Linked DNA regions of Homo sapiens: all the other regions are reported to be linked to region 4. Evidence: microRNA targets listed by miRTarBase, many of them from high-throughput screens and not tested one by one. Region 4 holds a microRNA gene; each other region holds the end of a gene's coding sequence.
The links. The annotated mature microRNA hsa-miR-4466 reads GGGUGCGGGCCGGCGGGG and lies in region 4 at 1,133-1,150, opposite strand. An mRNA with a match to its seed (bases 2 to 7 or 8) in the 3' UTR can be bound and repressed. Matches are read on the target gene's strand: a 7mer-m8 pairs with bases 2 to 8, a 7mer-A1 pairs with bases 2 to 7 and ends in A, and an 8mer does both.

Region 1: miRTarBase lists MAFF as a target of hsa-miR-4466. Seed matches in the 3' UTR shown: 7mer-A1 at 1,850-1,856.
Region 2: the mRNA of NUMA1 is a reported target of hsa-miR-4466. Seed matches in the 3' UTR shown: 7mer-m8 at 518-524.
Region 3: the mRNA of ATP1B4 is a reported target of hsa-miR-4466. Seed matches in the 3' UTR shown: 7mer-m8 at 1,124-1,130.

The regions. Positions count from the first base shown.
Region 1 is chr22:38,214,480-38,218,479 of GRCh38, forward strand. It overlaps MAFF (MAF bZIP transcription factor F), which reads left to right. Exons shown (of 3, transcript NM_012323.4): 3 at 1-2,028. The coding sequence ends at 399. It also overlaps a transcript of TMEM184B not described here. Among named protein-coding and RNA genes, the nearest start is that of SNORA92, 8.2 kb to the right of the region's middle. RefSeq lists a silencer at 124-493 and an enhancer at 3,727-4,000.
Region 2 is chr11:71,999,906-72,003,905 of GRCh38, reverse strand. NUMA1 (nuclear mitotic apparatus protein 1) reads left to right here. Exons shown (of 27, transcript NM_006185.4): 26 at 1-19; 27 at 368-1,042. The coding sequence ends at 379. It overlaps IL18BP (interleukin 18 binding protein), which reads right to left. Exons shown (of 6, transcript NM_001039660.2): 2 at 3,894-3,979; 3 at 3,349-3,555; 4 at 2,582-2,705; 5 at 2,354-2,501; 6 at 1,102-2,122. The coding sequence starts at 3,921. The coding sequence ends at 2,045. Among named protein-coding and RNA genes, the nearest start is that of IL18BP, 3.0 kb to the right of the region's middle.
Region 3 is chrX:120,378,869-120,382,868 of GRCh38, reverse strand. It overlaps ATP1B4 (ATPase Na+/K+ transporting family member beta 4), which reads right to left. Exons shown (of 8, transcript NM_001142447.3): 8 at 1-3,396. The coding sequence ends at 3,235. Among named protein-coding and RNA genes, the nearest start is that of ATP1B4, 19 kb to the right of the region's middle.
Region 4 is chr6:156,778,578-156,782,727 of GRCh38, forward strand. MIR4466 (microRNA 4466) reads right to left here and starts at 1,154; the gene lies at 1,101-1,154. It overlaps ARID1B (AT-rich interaction domain 1B), which reads left to right. Exons shown (of 20, transcript NM_001374828.1): 1 at 1-894. RefSeq lists silencers at 1-54, 275-324, 395-1,084, 1,115-1,284 and an enhancer at 18-553.

The DNA.
Region 1 (4,000 bases), not on the chromosome of region 4:
TCGGTGCGCGAGCTGAACCGGCATCTGCGCGGGCTCTCCGCCGAGGAGGTGACACGGCTCAAGCAGCGGCGCCGCACACTCAAAAACCGTGGCTACGCCGCCAGCTGCCGCGTGAAGCGCGTGTGCCAGAAGGAGGAGCTGCAGAAGCAGAAGTCGGAGCTGGAGCGCGAGGTGGACAAGCTGGCGCGCGAGAACGCCGCCATGCGCCTGGAGCTCGACGCGCTGCGCGGCAAGTGCGAGGCGCTGCAGGGCTTCGCGCGCTCCGTGGCCGCCGCCCGCGGGCCCGCCACGCTCGTGGCGCCGGCCAGCGTCATCACCATCGTCAAGTCCACCCCGGGCTCGGGGTCTGGCCCCGCCCACGGCCCGGACCCCGCCCACGGCCCGGCCTCCTGCTCCTAGTGCCCGCCCCCGCCATGCCTCAGCCACGCCCCTCCGGCCTCAGCTCCCTCCCCAAAGTGCCTGAGCGCCGCCTCTGTGCCCAGGTCCCATTTCTCTGCAGCACTGGCCCCTTGGTGCACACACATTCCCTTCGTGGGCCCTGTCTTCCTCTTGCAGCCCCCCAAACTGGGACCGAATGACCCTGGGAAGGGGAACTTGGGTAGGTTGGGGATGGGGCAGAGGTCTGGATCTGGGATCGCCCTTGGCTGAAAGTTTAGCCTTTTTAGATTGAGAGATACAGAGCCGGCTTAGAGAACAGCTGTTGGGGGAGAAGAGGGCACCCCTCATCTTGGAAACTGCTCTTATTGTGCCAATATGCCCTCCAAACCCTCCCAGGATTCAAAGCTAGGTTTGGCTGTCTGTGACTTACGGGACCGTCCTGCTGAGAAATTGCACTGAAGAGATGCCCCCACCTCTGGTTGGGCCTGGGGGTGCCTGGCCTTCCGAAACTAAAAGAGTGGGTGGGAAGACTAGTGAAACCCAGTTCACGGATGGGGAAACAGGCCTGAGGTCACATTTCACTTAGTGGTTGTGTTGGGACCAAAACCTGGGTGTCCTCACTGCTGCCCTGAGTCCAGCCATGGTTTTCAGGGGGACAGTGGACAGGGACTCAGAAATGTGGTGGGAGGGCCTCCCTGGCTTGGGAGACCGCTCTCTGCAAGGGAGGGGGAGAGAAGCAGAGGGAGAGAGAAGGTGACACGGATGGAAGAGTGGGAAGGAGCTGGCCTGGCTCAGCCCTAGGCTGTCCCTGCAGCCAGGGTGTCCGGGGGCTGGCCAGTCAGAGAAAGGGGGCCATGGACTGCTGTGGCAAATAGGGAGACAAGGAGACAGACCCTGCAGTCCTACTACAGTCTGGAGTGGGGTCCTAAGAAGAAGGGTCCCACCTCAACCCCTGTCAGTGTCCACTGTGGGGTGGGGGCTGACCCCTGCCTTTGATTGTCATTCTCCTGGGAAGCCCAGTCTCAGTCCCTCCCCCAACACTGTCCACACTGCCCCTCCCCACTGTTTATTTATTGCACGGATCTAAGTTATTCTCCCCAGCCAGAGCCCGAGCTCCTGCTCCCTGGGAAAAGTGGCGTATGGCCCTGAGCTGGGCTTTATATTTTATATCTGCAAATAAATCACATTTTATCTTATATTTAGGGAAAGCCGGAGAGCAACAACAAAAAATGTTTAAGCCGGGCGCGGTGGCTCACATCTGTAATCCCAGCACTTTGGGAGTCCAAGGAGGGGGATCGCTTGAGTCCAGGAGTTTGAGACCAGCCTGGACAACATGGTGAAACCCCATCTCTACAAAAAATACAAAAATTAGCCATGCATGGTGGCTCATGCCTGTAGTCCCAGCTACTTGGGAGGCTGAGGCAGGAGGATCACTTAAGCCCAGAAGGCAGAGGTTGTAGTGAGCTGAGATCGCACCACTGCACTCCAGCCTGGGCAACATAGCAAAATCCTGTCTCAAAAAAAAAGTTAAAAAATATTGCCCGGCTCCTAGAATTTATTTATTTCCTGACTTACAGCAAGCGAGTTATCGTCTTCTGTATTTTGTAGACTTTCTAAATAAAGTCAAATTCTTTCTTTTTCCACAGAGAATAAATGTGTATCCTGGACTATGTTTTTTGGCGAGGGGTGTCTAAAATGGGGTTCTGCTTTCAACCCCTTAGGGCTTCTGGTGGCGGGGAGGGCTAGTGCACATCACCAGCTATTGCACAGGGTATGAGGTGGAGGGGAGATGGCGACAGAGACCAGTGATGCTGAAACTTCGATGCTTCCTCTTGGTTGCTTAGAGCACAGGAGCTCCTGGGAAGACAAAGCCATGGGCACAATGAAATTTAGGACTGGATTCTGGCGGAGCATGGTGGCTCACACCTGTAATCCCAGCACTTTGGGAGGCTGAAGCAAGAGGATCATCTGAGACTAGGAGTCCAAGAGCAACCCGGGCAACATAGTGACACCCCATCTCTACAAAAAATAAAAAATAATTAGCCACATGTGGTGGTACACATGCCTATTGTTCCAGCTACTGAAGAGGCTGAGGTGGGAGGATCACTTGAGGCCAGGAGTTTGAGACCAGGCTGGGCAACATAGCAAGACCCCCATCTCTACAAGAAATTTAAAAGTAAGAAAACAGGCCGGGCGCAGTGGCTCACACCTGTAATCCCAGCACTTTGGGAGGCTGAGGCGGGTGGATCATTTGAGGTCAGGAGTTCAAGACCAGCCTGACCAACATGGTGAAACCCCGTCTCTACTAAAAATACAAAAAACAACAACAACAAAAAAAAAACATGGCCCGGGTGCGGTGGCTCACGCCTGTAATCCCAGCACTTTGGGAGGCTGAGGCAGGCGGATCACGAGGTCAGGAGATCGAGACCATCCTGGCTAACACGGTGAAACCCCGTCTCTACTAAAAATACAAAAAACAACAACAACAAAAAAAAAACATGGCCCGGGTGCGGTGGCTCATGCCTGTAATCCCAGCACTTTGGGAGGCTGAGGCAGGCAGATCACGAGGTCAGGAGATCGAGACCATCCTGGCTAACACGGTGAAACCCCGTCTCTACTAAAAATACAAAAAAAATTAGCCGGGCATGGTGGCGGGCGCCTGTAGTCCCAGCTACTCGGGAGGCTGAGGCAGGAGAATGGTGTGAAGCCGGGAGGCGGAGCTTGCAGTGAGCTGAGATCGCGCCACTGGACTCCAGCCTGGGCGACAGAGTGAGACTCCGTCTCAAAAAAAAAAAGAAAAACAAAACAAAAAACAGAAAAACATAGCTGAGTGTGGTGGCGCATGTCTGTAGTCCTGGCTACTCAGGAGGTTGAGACAAGAGAGAATCGCTTAAACCCGGGAAGCAGAGGTTGCAGTAAGCTGAGATCGCGCCACTGCACTCCAGCCTGGGTGACAGAGCAAGACTCCATCTCAAAAAAAAAAAAAAAAAGAAAAGAAAAGAAAAGAAAACAATTAGCCAGTCATGGTGGTGTGGTTGAGCCCAGGAGTTTGAGGCTGCAGTGAGCTATGATTGCACCACTGCACAATCTAGGTGACACAGACCCTGTCTCAAAAGAAGAAGAAATTTAGGGTTAAATTCCCTGGGCATCCCTTTAGTGAACAGACAGTCCCACCCAGAGAGGAAAAAACCCAGATTTCAGAGTAATTTTTCCAGCACTTTCACATTGAGATCTGATTTTCTACAGCCAAGTGGAAACTATCTTCCCCATGTTTCGGAATGCCCAGGGAGGCAGGGAGAGTGGCTTTCCCAGCCCCCACCTGCAGGCCTAAACCATAACCCTGTGTCTTGTCCTAGGCCTCAAACTCACTAATTTCAACCCAATCTGCCAGCCCTTCTGGGGCACCCTGAAGAAGGAGTGGAGTATACTGTGGTCTGTGGGTCACGGCAATTGGGGTTTGAATCTAGGTGTCTGTTCTTAGCTGTGGGATCTTTGGTACTTATTTGGTTTCTTACAGTCTCAGTTTACCATCTGTAAAATGAAGATGCTATGGGGCATTACGTGCGAAAAACCCTGGAGACCTGTGGGGCTGCAGGTTTTAACACTCCGAACACACATTTAC
Region 2 (4,000 bases), not on the chromosome of region 4:
CCCTCGAGCCAAGGGCAAGGTAGAGGCACTGGCAGGATGGGGGAGGGAAACCCGATGAGAGCATGGGCACCCCCCAGACCGCCCCACCAAGTAGCATCCAAGATGGGGCCACGCCAGGCTGCTGGAGGGTGTGGGGTAAGAGGTGTCCCTGTCCTGGTAGCTCCTCTCCAAGGAGAGAAGACAGATGGCCCCATTCTCATGGAGAGCACCCAGAGCTGCTCAGGCACAGCCAGCAACTGATAACCCTGGGGCTCACAAGGGAGGGGATCCAGACAGGGGCGTGGGAGCAGGAAGAGATCTTCCCAGCCAGTGGGTGCAGGCTAGTATCGCAAGTTCTCATCTGGCCATGTGACTGTGTCTCTTTCAGGCAAAGCACTAAAGGGCCAGTACCAGTGAGTGGCCCCACCTGTGTCCCCGATGCTGACCTCACCTGGTCCTCCGCCTACTGTCCCTCTCAGTGCCTTCTCTCAGCTCCCAGGCCAACAGTAGCCAAACCCCTAGAGACAGTGATGCCTGCCCGCACCCTGGCCTGGTCCCTGGTCCTTCACTGGCGCCTTCTCGGAGCTGGCCCAGGGGGCCTGGAGCATGGACAGTGTGGGCGCTCTCCCTACCTTGCCTCCTTTTTTCTTAAAGCAAAGTCACTTCTCCATCACAACCAGATTTGAGGCTGGTTTTGATGGCTGGGTCCTTGGGCCTGGCCAGTCTTCCTCTTAGCCTCTGGATCTAGAAGGGACCATAAGAGGAGTAGGCCCTGGTTCCTGCTGTCCTGGTGGCTGGGCCCAGCAGGGGCCCTCACTCTTGAAGTCCAGGACTGGGTCTGACCTGGTGGGAGCACCTGCCAGAGGATGCTCTTTCCCAGGACGGATGGGCCCTATGTCTCAGGAGTGGGGTTGGGGGACAGCCTTCAGCAGCAGCTCACACCCTACCTTCCCCAGACTTGCACTGGGGTGGGATTTGGAGTGATGGGAAGGTTTTTAAGGGCCGGGGATGGATCTTTTCTAAATGTTATTACTTGTAAATAAAGTCTATTTTTCTCCCGTGAGTACTGAGTTGACTTGATCGGTGTGGGAAAAAGAGGAATATAGGCTCTTTGAAGCCTACCTTGTTCCTGCTGAGTCTTCCATACCACCTCCTTTCTCTCATCCCTTTTCCTGAGGCCACATCTTTCCAGGCTCTTCCCACTCTCCATTAGTGGCCTCTGCTCCCGGGGAGCATTATGGGCTGTTCTCTCTTTTCTTTTTCAAGCGCCTGTGTTCCCCTGAAGCAGGTGTTGTCTTCAGCTTCTGTGTGGCAGTCCCTCTCTCCCATACTCCCTCGTGGGACAGGCAAAGTTCCTGGGAGTGGAACTGAAGCCTAAATGAACAGATGTCAGGATGCCTCCATTGAATAATCCTTTATGAGGACCCATGTGGGGATGACACAGATACAGTGTGGATCCGAAGCAGCTGCTGCCCCCATCCCTTCCCTGGAACAGTCCATTAGAGTGAAGGGGGAAAAAAAAAACATACAGCACGAAGATAGGAAGTCTGCAGAATGCGGCCAGAGCTGAAAGAGGATGACTTCACTGAAGAGGCAGCATTTCAACCAGGCTTGAGCGTTCCCCTGCTGGGGCGGTGAGGAAGACGGGACTAAATGAGCAGAGACATGGGAGTGGGAGCTGTCTGGGAAAAGCAAGAATAGTTGGGAGGCTTCCAGAAAGTCATGTGGGAAATGCAGGTAGGGCCCTGGAGTGCAAGGCTAAGGCATCAACAGTCTTGGTGGTTTCTGAGCAGTAGAGCAGTGTGAGGAGTAGGACGTTAGGAAGGCTAATGGATAGGTGGAGAGAGAATGGCAGGAGGAGGAGGCATTATAAGGAGGCTGTGATTTTCTAGGTAGGTGGGAATGGAGTTTGAATTTGGTGAGAGAAGGGACCCAAAGCAGAGAAGGAGGGGGTGTGTTGCGCATCCACGCAGCCTACAGGCAGTCAGGGACTGTTCACTCCAGGTAGACAGGTAGGACCCAAGCTCTGGTCAAGGTTGTGCTGCTGCTGGCCCTGTGCTGAGTCTTAACCCTGCTGCTGTGGACTGCTGTGGCTGGAGGGCAGGGCTTCTTGGGTGGGGGGCAAGGTTGCCCTCAGCCCAGCCTAGGGAAGTGAAGGCAGACAAGGATCAGGCCAAGGAAAGGAGGGACATCTCATCACTTTGCCCCAGGCTACACCTCCTCTGCCCAAGACCTAAGTTCCTTTTTGTCTGGCTGACCTTGAGGAATGCTGGGCATTAGTTCACAGGCTGCTCTGGCAGAGCCCACCCTTTCCTCCCCACATATGGAAGCAGAGCTCCTCCTGTTCCTGGAGGCCTCTCCTTGGGCTCCTCACCCAGAGCTGGGCCAGGACGACGTGACGCTGGACAACCTGTTCAGGGTCCACGAGCACACAGGAGAAGTTGGTGCTGTGCAGGGCAGGGGTCAGCTGCTCCAGCACCAAGGCCTTGCACAGCTGCGTACCTGTGCTCCCACGTTCCCGGCTGGAGCGGAAGGGAAGGAAAGGTCATGAGAAGGCCGCAGAAGGCCTCCTTCCCACCCACCTGGCTGCTGCGACCCTCACCTGGTGCTCCCCTCCCACAGTCGGCCTGGGAGGTGCTCAATGAAGGAACCATTGCCCAGCCAGTAGAGGATGCTGAAGTTGGGGAAGCGGCTGCAGGCCACACAGGATAAGCTCAGCGTTCCATCTAGGGACACAGGCAGCAGTTAGCTCTTCAGAAGAGCAGGCCCTTCCCCTACCCTGCTCTGCTGTGCCCTCCCTGCCAGCTCCCCCCAGTCCCCATGCATCTGGAACCTAGAGAACTGCTCTGCACACCACCTAGGTGGGAACGTCCGTTACAGAAGTGCAGTTGTCTCCGAGAGGCCCTAGCCCTAAACACGGGGAATGTGAGGAATGGTCCTTGGTTCACGTGATGAATCCTCTTCTGAACCTGTCTCCTCAGGATGACCTTTTCTAGTGCCCAGCCTCGGTGACTTGGGAGCCCAGGTGACAAAGGCAGTGCTGGATGGCTGCTGCTCCTCTGAGATGGCCAGAGGCCAGCAGGCTCTGGGTGGAGGGGCTGGCCTTGGGGTCCACTGCAACCAAGGCTCTGGGAGGTCCTGTGACCATTACTTATGTCTTGAGTTCTCTGTCCTATTTGATAGGGAGCATCTTGGGAGCTGCGCCAAGCCTGCACCCATGACACTGGGTTGGGGAGGGAGAATGGTGCGTGCTCAGCCCAGCTGGCTCAGCTGGTGGTACATGGGCAGAAGGGGACTGGCGCTCAGGAGTCAACCCGACCCTGGGAACCTCTGTGCCCATAGCCCACCCTCCACCACTGTGCTTCTTACTCAGTGGCACTTCCACCTCTGGCCAGGTCACTTCCAATGCTGGACACTGCTTAGCTGCTGGGAACACTGGGGGCTGGGAGGGGCAGGGGTCCTTTGTGCTTCTAACTGAGGCAGTGGCAGCTGTGGTGGTCTGCGAGACAGGTGTGGCTCTGACCAGGAGAGTGACGACGTGGGCACACAGGAGCAGGACCCACAAAGGGCTGAGGTCTGAGGAAAGGACAGTTACAGGTCAGCGGCTCTGGAGACAGAGTGGGCTGCCCGGGTAAGGATGTAACTCCAGCCCAGAGATGTCTGGGTTCTAGCCAGGGAATCAGAGCGGGAAGAGGGACCCCTCAGCACCCACCCCTTAGCCCTTTATTGAACAGAGTACAGAGAAGCTTTAGACTGGAGCCAGAGCTACAATATCTGCCCAGGTTCTTAAAGCAACAGCACCAGGTGCGCTGGGTGGTTTGCCTTGGAGTGAAGGCTCCGGGTTAGCCCATTGCTCCATTCTGTTCATAGACCTCACCCTACCCCGCCTGCCCATGCGTAGCCCCAAGGCCTACCTGGTGTCCAGTTGTGTCTCATGGTCATGATGCATGCGTCAGGAGCTGGTGAGCCTGGCTCTTTATCTGTGACAACGTCCTCTTCTCTGGTGAAAGGTGGGGGAGGA
Region 3 (4,000 bases), not on the chromosome of region 4:
ACATTTTTCATGTCCTAGCTGACAACCCAAACTATCTTAGTACCCTTCAATATTGCTTTGCAATTGTGGACACAATGGATTCCATTGAAAGATAAATATTATTTGACAAATGATTCATAATTCCTTGTCTAATAGTCAATGCATTTAACAGGATAATGTATTATGTATAAAGTATAGCACCAGTAGTTGAATTCCTGTGAAATGTTAACTATTTTAACTCAAAATTTACATACGTTTCAAAATGTTTGGGATATCATTCATTGATTTTTAAGAAGATGGTACTTTCTGGTAAGCAGCAGCTCAGAGTAGAAAGAGCACTGGACCTGGAGTCAGATGCAATGCAAGTTGTTTTTTCTAAACACTCTCTAATATCCTTTCCAGATCTAACATTCTATTATCTTTTACTACTGAATCTTGAGAGTTTGATTGAGGTAATTTTCAAGTGGTTTAAAAGTTATTGTCTTTTTCATTTTGTTCCTTTTCTTTTTAAAGGTTAGTTTTGAAAATTGAATTTGTTAAGAAAATGGGTTGAGAGGAGGCAGTTTCATTGTATGTTTGTTTGTTTTTGTATTTTCCATTAACCTACTATAGAAGATCCTATATCTTCTAGAACTTGTTAGTAGTGGTTGGCCTCCCTTTACTGTGTCAATAAGACTTTGAAGGTGTCTGGGAAGGAGATTCCAAAGAGGAACAGCAATTCTTTCTGCCACAAGAGAAAAAACACTGTTAGGGACTAGATTGGTATAGTATGTTTACATGACTGGCTTCAGTTCCCAAGATTAAATAGCTTAAAATTTCTTAAGCGAGTTCCCTTAACCCAATGTTGCTTTTGTTCTCATCTTTCCTTCTCACCAACCCTACATGTGTTTACATCTCCACATCAATGTCTGACCAATAGAAAATCATGTCTAAAATGTTCAAAATTGATCTCTCCAAACCTGCTTCTCTCTTATATTCCCAGTCTTGATCAACAATGTCACCATCTTACCGGTTCTAGCCAAGCTCAAACCTTTGGAGTCATTCTCCAAACTCCTCCTTCCTTATTCCCCATTCCACAGTCTTGTCCTTCTCCAATCACCCTTCACATAGTGGTTGCCAAGTGCCCTTTCTAAATTGCAAGCCGGGTGCGGTGGCTCACGCCTGTAATCCCAGCACTGTGGGAGGCTGAGGCAGGCGGATCACTTGAGGTCAGGAGTTCGAGACCAGCCTGGCCAACATGGTGAAACCCTGTCTCCGCCAAAAATACAAAAGTTAGCTGGGCATGGTGGTGTGTGCCTGTAATCCCAGCTACTCAGGAGGCTGAGGCTGGAGAATCACTTGAATCCGGGAGGTGGAGGTTGCAGTGAGCCGAGATCACACCACTGCACTCCAGCCTGGGTGACAACAGCGAAACTCCATCTCAAAAATAAACAAATAAATAATAAAGTAAAATAAAATAAAACACAAATGTGATCACAGAGCCTCCCTGATTAAAATGCTTTAATTACTCATTTTCACCTATTGGATAAAACTCAAAGTCCTCTTTCCATCCCTGAATACCTCTCTAGCTGGATCTCTTGCCATCCCTGCCATTCCTCTGAGCCCTTTTCATTCCAGTTACATAAACTGCTCACAGTTACCCAGACACACCATGGTCTCTTCATGACTGTGGCTTTGCATGTGAAATTTCCTCTGCTACTTTCTTAGCTCAAGATATTTTTCCTCATATTCCCATAGCTTTCCACATACTAGTTTTTTAACTCTCATTAAACTATATCGTATAACTTCTCCACTTGCTTGTCTTCACTACCAGACAGTCAGTTCCCTGTTTTGGGAGAAAGGAAACATTGTAGAGGAGATTCAGACTTTGGATCCTCCTAGGTGGCATTTAAACTTGCTTCGGACCCTGAGACACTATACTATTCGCTGATGCTTGCTTTTTTTTTCTCCTTGTGCCAGCCTTCCCCCTGGTGGAGGTGTTAAGAAGCAGTTGAGTGATCAGGTGACCAAAGATAAGACAAAGTGACCTGGCTGATCCACATCCTGGATAAGAATCTGCCTCATGTCATTTTTAAAGTAAATGCTAAACTGGCTAATGGGCCTTGGCTTTTGCCTGGCCTGGCAAGGAACGTTCTGTCTTGTCATGTATTCATTGACAGATTATGATTTCAATTTCCAGAGCTGTAGCTGCTGGTCTATGTAACCACCCCTGATGGTCTCAAAAAACATCATGCTACTGTCAAACAAATAGCCCAAGAAGAATTAGCTGGTGGGAATCTTCTTCCATGTTGTCTCCTCTGCCTGAAGCTGAGAAAAACCTGTTTGCAGGAATGTTTGCCTTTAGACGATTACACCAGAGAGCAAGGAATCAAACACCAATCATATCCATATGCTAAGTGTTCTCCCCAGTTGCAGTGAGCCCCACCTCTTTAAAAAGTCACAAGGACGGTCTTCATCTCTATCCCAGAACAATATCCTGTTAGCACTGCTTTTTTCCCAGTTGAAAATAACCTAGTCTTTGAATAAGCACTTAGTTGTCTGTGGGAGGCAGAAGTTTCTTAGGCACCAGGATATAGAGGTCTTTAGGTATAGCGGTCTTGGTTGTCTAGGTTGGACCGAGTGGTGATTCCCAGGGAAGGACCTTGCCAGGCAGGTTTTTTTTTTCTTCAGAGACAGGATCTCACTCTGTCACCCAGGCTGGAATGCAGTGCAGCTCACTGCAGCCTTGACCTCCTGGGCTCAAGTGATCCTCCTGCCTTAATCTCCTGAATAGGTGGGACTACAGATGCATGCCACCACACCCGGCTTAGGCAGATTTTTTTTAAACATGTGTTAGGTTATTAGCCTGGTTGGGAGGAATCTGACCTCTAAAACCAACAGAATTTTAGAAAACATGATGAATTTATAATCATAATAGAAATTCTCCTTGATGGCTATTGCGTGGCTATTGTAAATTTTATCAGATACTATGTTTACGCTACAGGGAGATTACCAGCAGCAAGAACAGGCTTTAGTTTTAAGTGGAGGGAAAGGAAATTAATATACTCTGTTTGTCATCAGGAGACACTACCTTTAAAAAATCGAACAGCTCCCACAATGTCATTTTATACACATGTCATAGGCAAGGAAAGATGATCGGCTGTCTTAGATGTCCATCTGGCTGTGTCCTAATTGAAGAAAAAGAATTCAGGTGCTACCAGAGATACCATGAGATAAAACAGAAACAGAACTGGTAAGAATGGCCCCCTGAAGTTCTTAAGTTTCTATGTTCAGGGTAAAGATTACCCTGCCCACAAAACGATCATTGATGACATCATTTATGACGCCTTTGCCCTTCAGTTGGCACTGCACAGGCACTGCTTGGTTCTTCACCACGTCTGTAAAGTGCATTGCCACCAAGGGGGATGTGTAGTTAACCTGCAGGTAGAAGAAAAATGAATTCTAAGTGTGGGGAGGTGGTAGGAGGGAAGTGATCAGATAATCACTGCAGGATGACAACCCTCACAAAGAGAACTGAGTAAATCCCATGATGCCAATTTGCAAATGGCCAAAGCAACAGACATACTCTCCTTGCAGTGGGAAAGTGTGGGAAAATCATACATTTCTCTAACAAGTCACTGTCAGATATCTGATTGTCCTCTGGGAAAAACCAATTCTGATTCAGCATGATATGATTTTTCTGGAAATCAGACCATGAATTAAACCAAAACTAGTGTCTATCGAGTCCCTGTGTTGGGGACTCACCCCAGCGCTTCAAATGGGAGAAACAGAAGCGTGATTATTAGGGCATGTTTAAGCACATTGGTAGTAATTTATCTGCTCCTGACCCTGCCACTAACTTAGCTGTATGGTCTTGGGCAAGTCACTTTCTGTCTCTGAACCCCAATTTTCCCATTCGTAAACTTAAAAGGTTAAATTAGGCCATATATGAGATTCTTTCAGATATGGAAAGGAGTGTGGTTGTGATAAGAATTGGTAAAGGGAGCTCCTGGTTATGGCCAGCAGCTATTTACCCCTCTAC
Region 4 (4,150 bases):
GTGCCCGGGGGCGGCGGCGGCCCGGCGGCCGTCCCGGAGTTTAATAATTACTATGGCAGCGCTGCCCCTGCGAGCGGCGGCCCCGGCGGCCGCGCTGGGCCTTGCTTTGATCAACATGGCGGACAACAAAGCCCCGGGATGGGGATGATGCACTCCGCCTCCGCCGCCGCCGCCGGGGCCCCCGGCAGCATGGACCCCCTGCAGAACTCCCACGAAGGGTACCCCAACAGCCAGTGCAACCATTATCCGGGCTACAGCCGGCCCGGCGCGGGCGGCGGCGGCGGCGGCGGCGGCGGAGGAGGAGGAGGCAGCGGAGGAGGAGGAGGAGGAGGAGGAGCAGGAGCAGGAGGAGCAGGAGCGGGAGCTGTGGCGGCGGCGGCCGCGGCGGCGGCGGCAGCAGCAGGAGGCGGCGGCGGCGGCGGCTATGGGGGCTCGTCCGCGGGGTACGGGGTGCTGAGCTCCCCCCGGCAGCAGGGCGGCGGCATGATGATGGGCCCCGGGGGCGGCGGGGCCGCGAGCCTCAGCAAGGCGGCCGCCGGCTCGGCGGCGGGGGGCTTCCAGCGCTTCGCCGGCCAGAACCAGCACCCGTCGGGGGCCACCCCGACCCTCAATCAGCTGCTCACCTCGCCCAGCCCCATGATGCGGAGCTACGGCGGCAGCTACCCCGAGTACAGCAGCCCCAGCGCGCCGCCGCCGCCGCCGTCGCAGCCCCAGTCCCAGGCGGCGGCGGCGGGGGCGGCGGCGGGCGGCCAGCAGGCGGCCGCGGGCATGGGCTTGGGCAAGGACATGGGCGCCCAGTACGCCGCTGCCAGCCCGGCCTGGGCGGCCGCGCAACAAAGGAGTCACCCGGCGATGAGCCCCGGCACCCCCGGACCGACCATGGGCAGATCCCAGGTAACCCTCGCGCCAGCCGGGCCTGCTTCCGCCCGGCGGCCTCGCCGCGCCGCGAGCCTGAGTTTCTTTCTTTGCCGCGTACTTTTCCCCGTCTTCCCGCGGGGGCGGCGGGGGCGCGGCGCCCAAAGCCATCTTGACGGGCGGCCGCCTCCCGCCGCGGTCGGGGCGCCCCGGGGGCCGGCGCGCTGTCCAGGCCTGGGAGGGCTTCGCCGGGCCGGGCCGGGCCGGGTGGCTTCTACCCCGCCGGCCCGCACCCGCGTCCCCCCCCTCCCCCAGGCCCGGGAACGCGAAGCGAGATCCCGAGGCGCCACCCGCGCGGTCGCCGTTTGGGGCGGCGGGGACCGTTCGGGTGCTTTTGTAACAAATAGGCTCTCCCGGCCAGGACGGCTGGGGCGAAGAGCCACCCGATCGGTTCTGGGAGCGCCCACAATGTGCTTTAACGGGGGAAAGAATGAGGAACTTTCTCACACCTTTAGCCACAGCACGTTCCCTCTTGGCTTCCGAGGTCCAGGCAGGGAAAATAGGTTAGCTTTGTGACAAGCGAGTGGGTTTTTCCTACTTAGGGAGAGCCATTCAGAGACACTCGGTGCGGGCTTCGAGCTCGAACGTTTGCTGGTAGGAATAATAACAAAATTTACAACGACATGGAGGTGCAATATTGTAAAATACATCGATTCGTTCCTTAGAATAGCCAGGGAAATCCATTATTGGGCTTACGGGCTGCTTGCAGGGAGTCACCTTCAACAGGCAGGCTATGTGAAAGGAGCACGTTCCGGATCAATTGAACTTATTTTGATCATGGATTAGGCATGCATTTTATTCAGCAAATCCAGTAAGATAGCAGACCAGTGAAAATTGATCTTTTGGGATCGTATTTATTTGGATTTTCTTTATTTTGCTGTCACCCGAGTCCTACAGCGCTGTTAGGAAGTGTCCTGCACTCTTGCTGTTTCTTGCTAGTAGGCTGAGCCTAAAGACTGACTTGATCTCCTTTGCAAGGTTTGGAATTTGAATTGTGGAGGTAAACTGGCTGTAATAGTCTCCAGACAGCTGCCTCTGAGTTGACATCTAATCTGCCATCTGATTGGCTCCCCTCTCACCATTGGGCATTTAGCACTGCTGATGTAAATAGAAGTGCTGAGCAGTACAGTCACAAAAATTCTTGCCACAAATAATAACTGAGCTCTATTACAAGCAAATGTAAGGTTCAGTATTTAAAGCTGAAACTATTATGAATCATAGTTATTAATAAGAGGATCAAATACAGAAAAACAGTTCGCTGGTGTCCAGTATTGGGCATTTACAAAATTCAGATCTTTGATGATAGTCTTAGAATATGCACATTACATATATCATAGACTTTAATTGGAGGCTGAGGATAAGGCCATTGAAAAATAAGTAAACCACGAATTTTACCAATTTTTGGATTTGTAAAGCCTTTATAAAAGTCTTCCCTTTACAAATTCAACTATGGAAAAATTTGAATTCTGTCAGCACACGCAGCTTAATAAAACCTTAAAATTTTTTTAAGATTTTGATAGGCAGCAATATATTTTGGTGATGTGTAATTCACCTGATAAACAAGATTTAAGCTTCATTTTTTTGTGATTTATCAGTTCTGACTGTTCAAAGATATTTGTGGATGAGGAGTTTTGGTTAGAATTGACATATTTAAAAAACGAAATGAGGAAACCACATATTTGTGCAGATAACAATAATTAAAAGGGGAAAAATGAGATATTCCTGTGAAATACTAAGAATCATTTCATATTTGCTTTTGATGTGGAGAATACAGAAATGCCCCATAATCTTTTTTTTTTCTTCATTGTTTTGTTAGATTAGGTAATTTGAGCCTTGTTTGAACTGCTTACACGATGAATTAGGGAAACTATATTCTAAGCAAGTTGTGCTGGGTGTCTTTTTTTCCAAATAATTTTTCTTTCATGTTAATGCTATGAAAGTTTAAAAAATCCTAATCTGTTAGAGAGGAACAACAGTCGTTGTATGTATATTTTTATGTAACTCATTTATTTTAGGAAGAGGTATTTTAACAATAATCATACCTTAGAGACTTGTCAGAGTGAAGGAAGGGCTGAATTTAACAAATAATCTTGTGAATCCTAGGCTGAACACTGCTGTCCACTGCTTTCAGATCTTTAGTTATTGGAGTTTTGCTTTTAAGGATAATAGATTTTTCTATTCTTAATAGAAAACTTGTGATTTCAACTTGTTTTTGATTCACACGAGGAAAAACATTATAGAGAAGAATCATGGAAATAAACCCACGTAATTAATTTTAAAAAGGTTTGCTTTGTCAGCCTGCTTTTAAAGGAGCAGTTTAAAATTCACATCTTCGTAAACTAGAGACGAATGAAGTTAGAGGCAGATGTAGGACCATGTTACTTTAGAGTATTTTTTTCTTAATGGTACCAATCATTTTCAGTATTTTGTTTTCTTGTAATGAGAATGAATCCATTATGTCCCTATGACCCTTGGGAATAGGCTTTTTTTTTTTTTTTTTTTTTTTTTTTTTGTTGAGGTTGGGGGAAATATGGACATGCGACCTAGATTCAGGAATTTCTTTTAAGTACCTTACCGTGTAACATGTGGAATGTGTCTTTTTTACAATCCTTTTTTTTCTTTTCTTTTTGGAAGTTAGTATTATTTAGTATTAGTTGTTGTAATTATACTAAGAAACAGTCATTTGTCCAAAATATTAAATTACTGCCTGACTGTAGGTCATGAAATGCTATTAAATCACATTGTTAAATGATGAAATATTTTGGCTTTTAATATGTTTTTAGTTTCATTTTTGATTTCAGGAAATAGTTTCTATTGGGTGGCAAATGTTTTCGTAATTGGGACAAAACGTGTATATATTATAGGAGAAGGGTCTTTTTAAAAAGTGAAATAAGCCATTTGACGATTCAGTTTATTACTAGATTTTTGTAAGATGAGTATTCAGATGGAGCAGTCTCAAAAGGAATATTGAGGTCTACTCACGCACATAGGTTTTATGATGTCCACATTTCTACTGAATTCCATAAATGCAGTTTTAACTTTTAGTTTTATAAAACGTAGTACAATGTATTAAGAAAAGGGCCTTATTTACCATTAGAAGAAAAGTGATTAGCTAGCATGCGAAGCAGGAAGCTACAAACTGGTTCCTGATTACCTTAAAATGTGTGTGAGATACATTATTTGATAAAATCACTCCCAGTTAAATTTTAGGGTGTCTGATATTTTAAATCTTGTA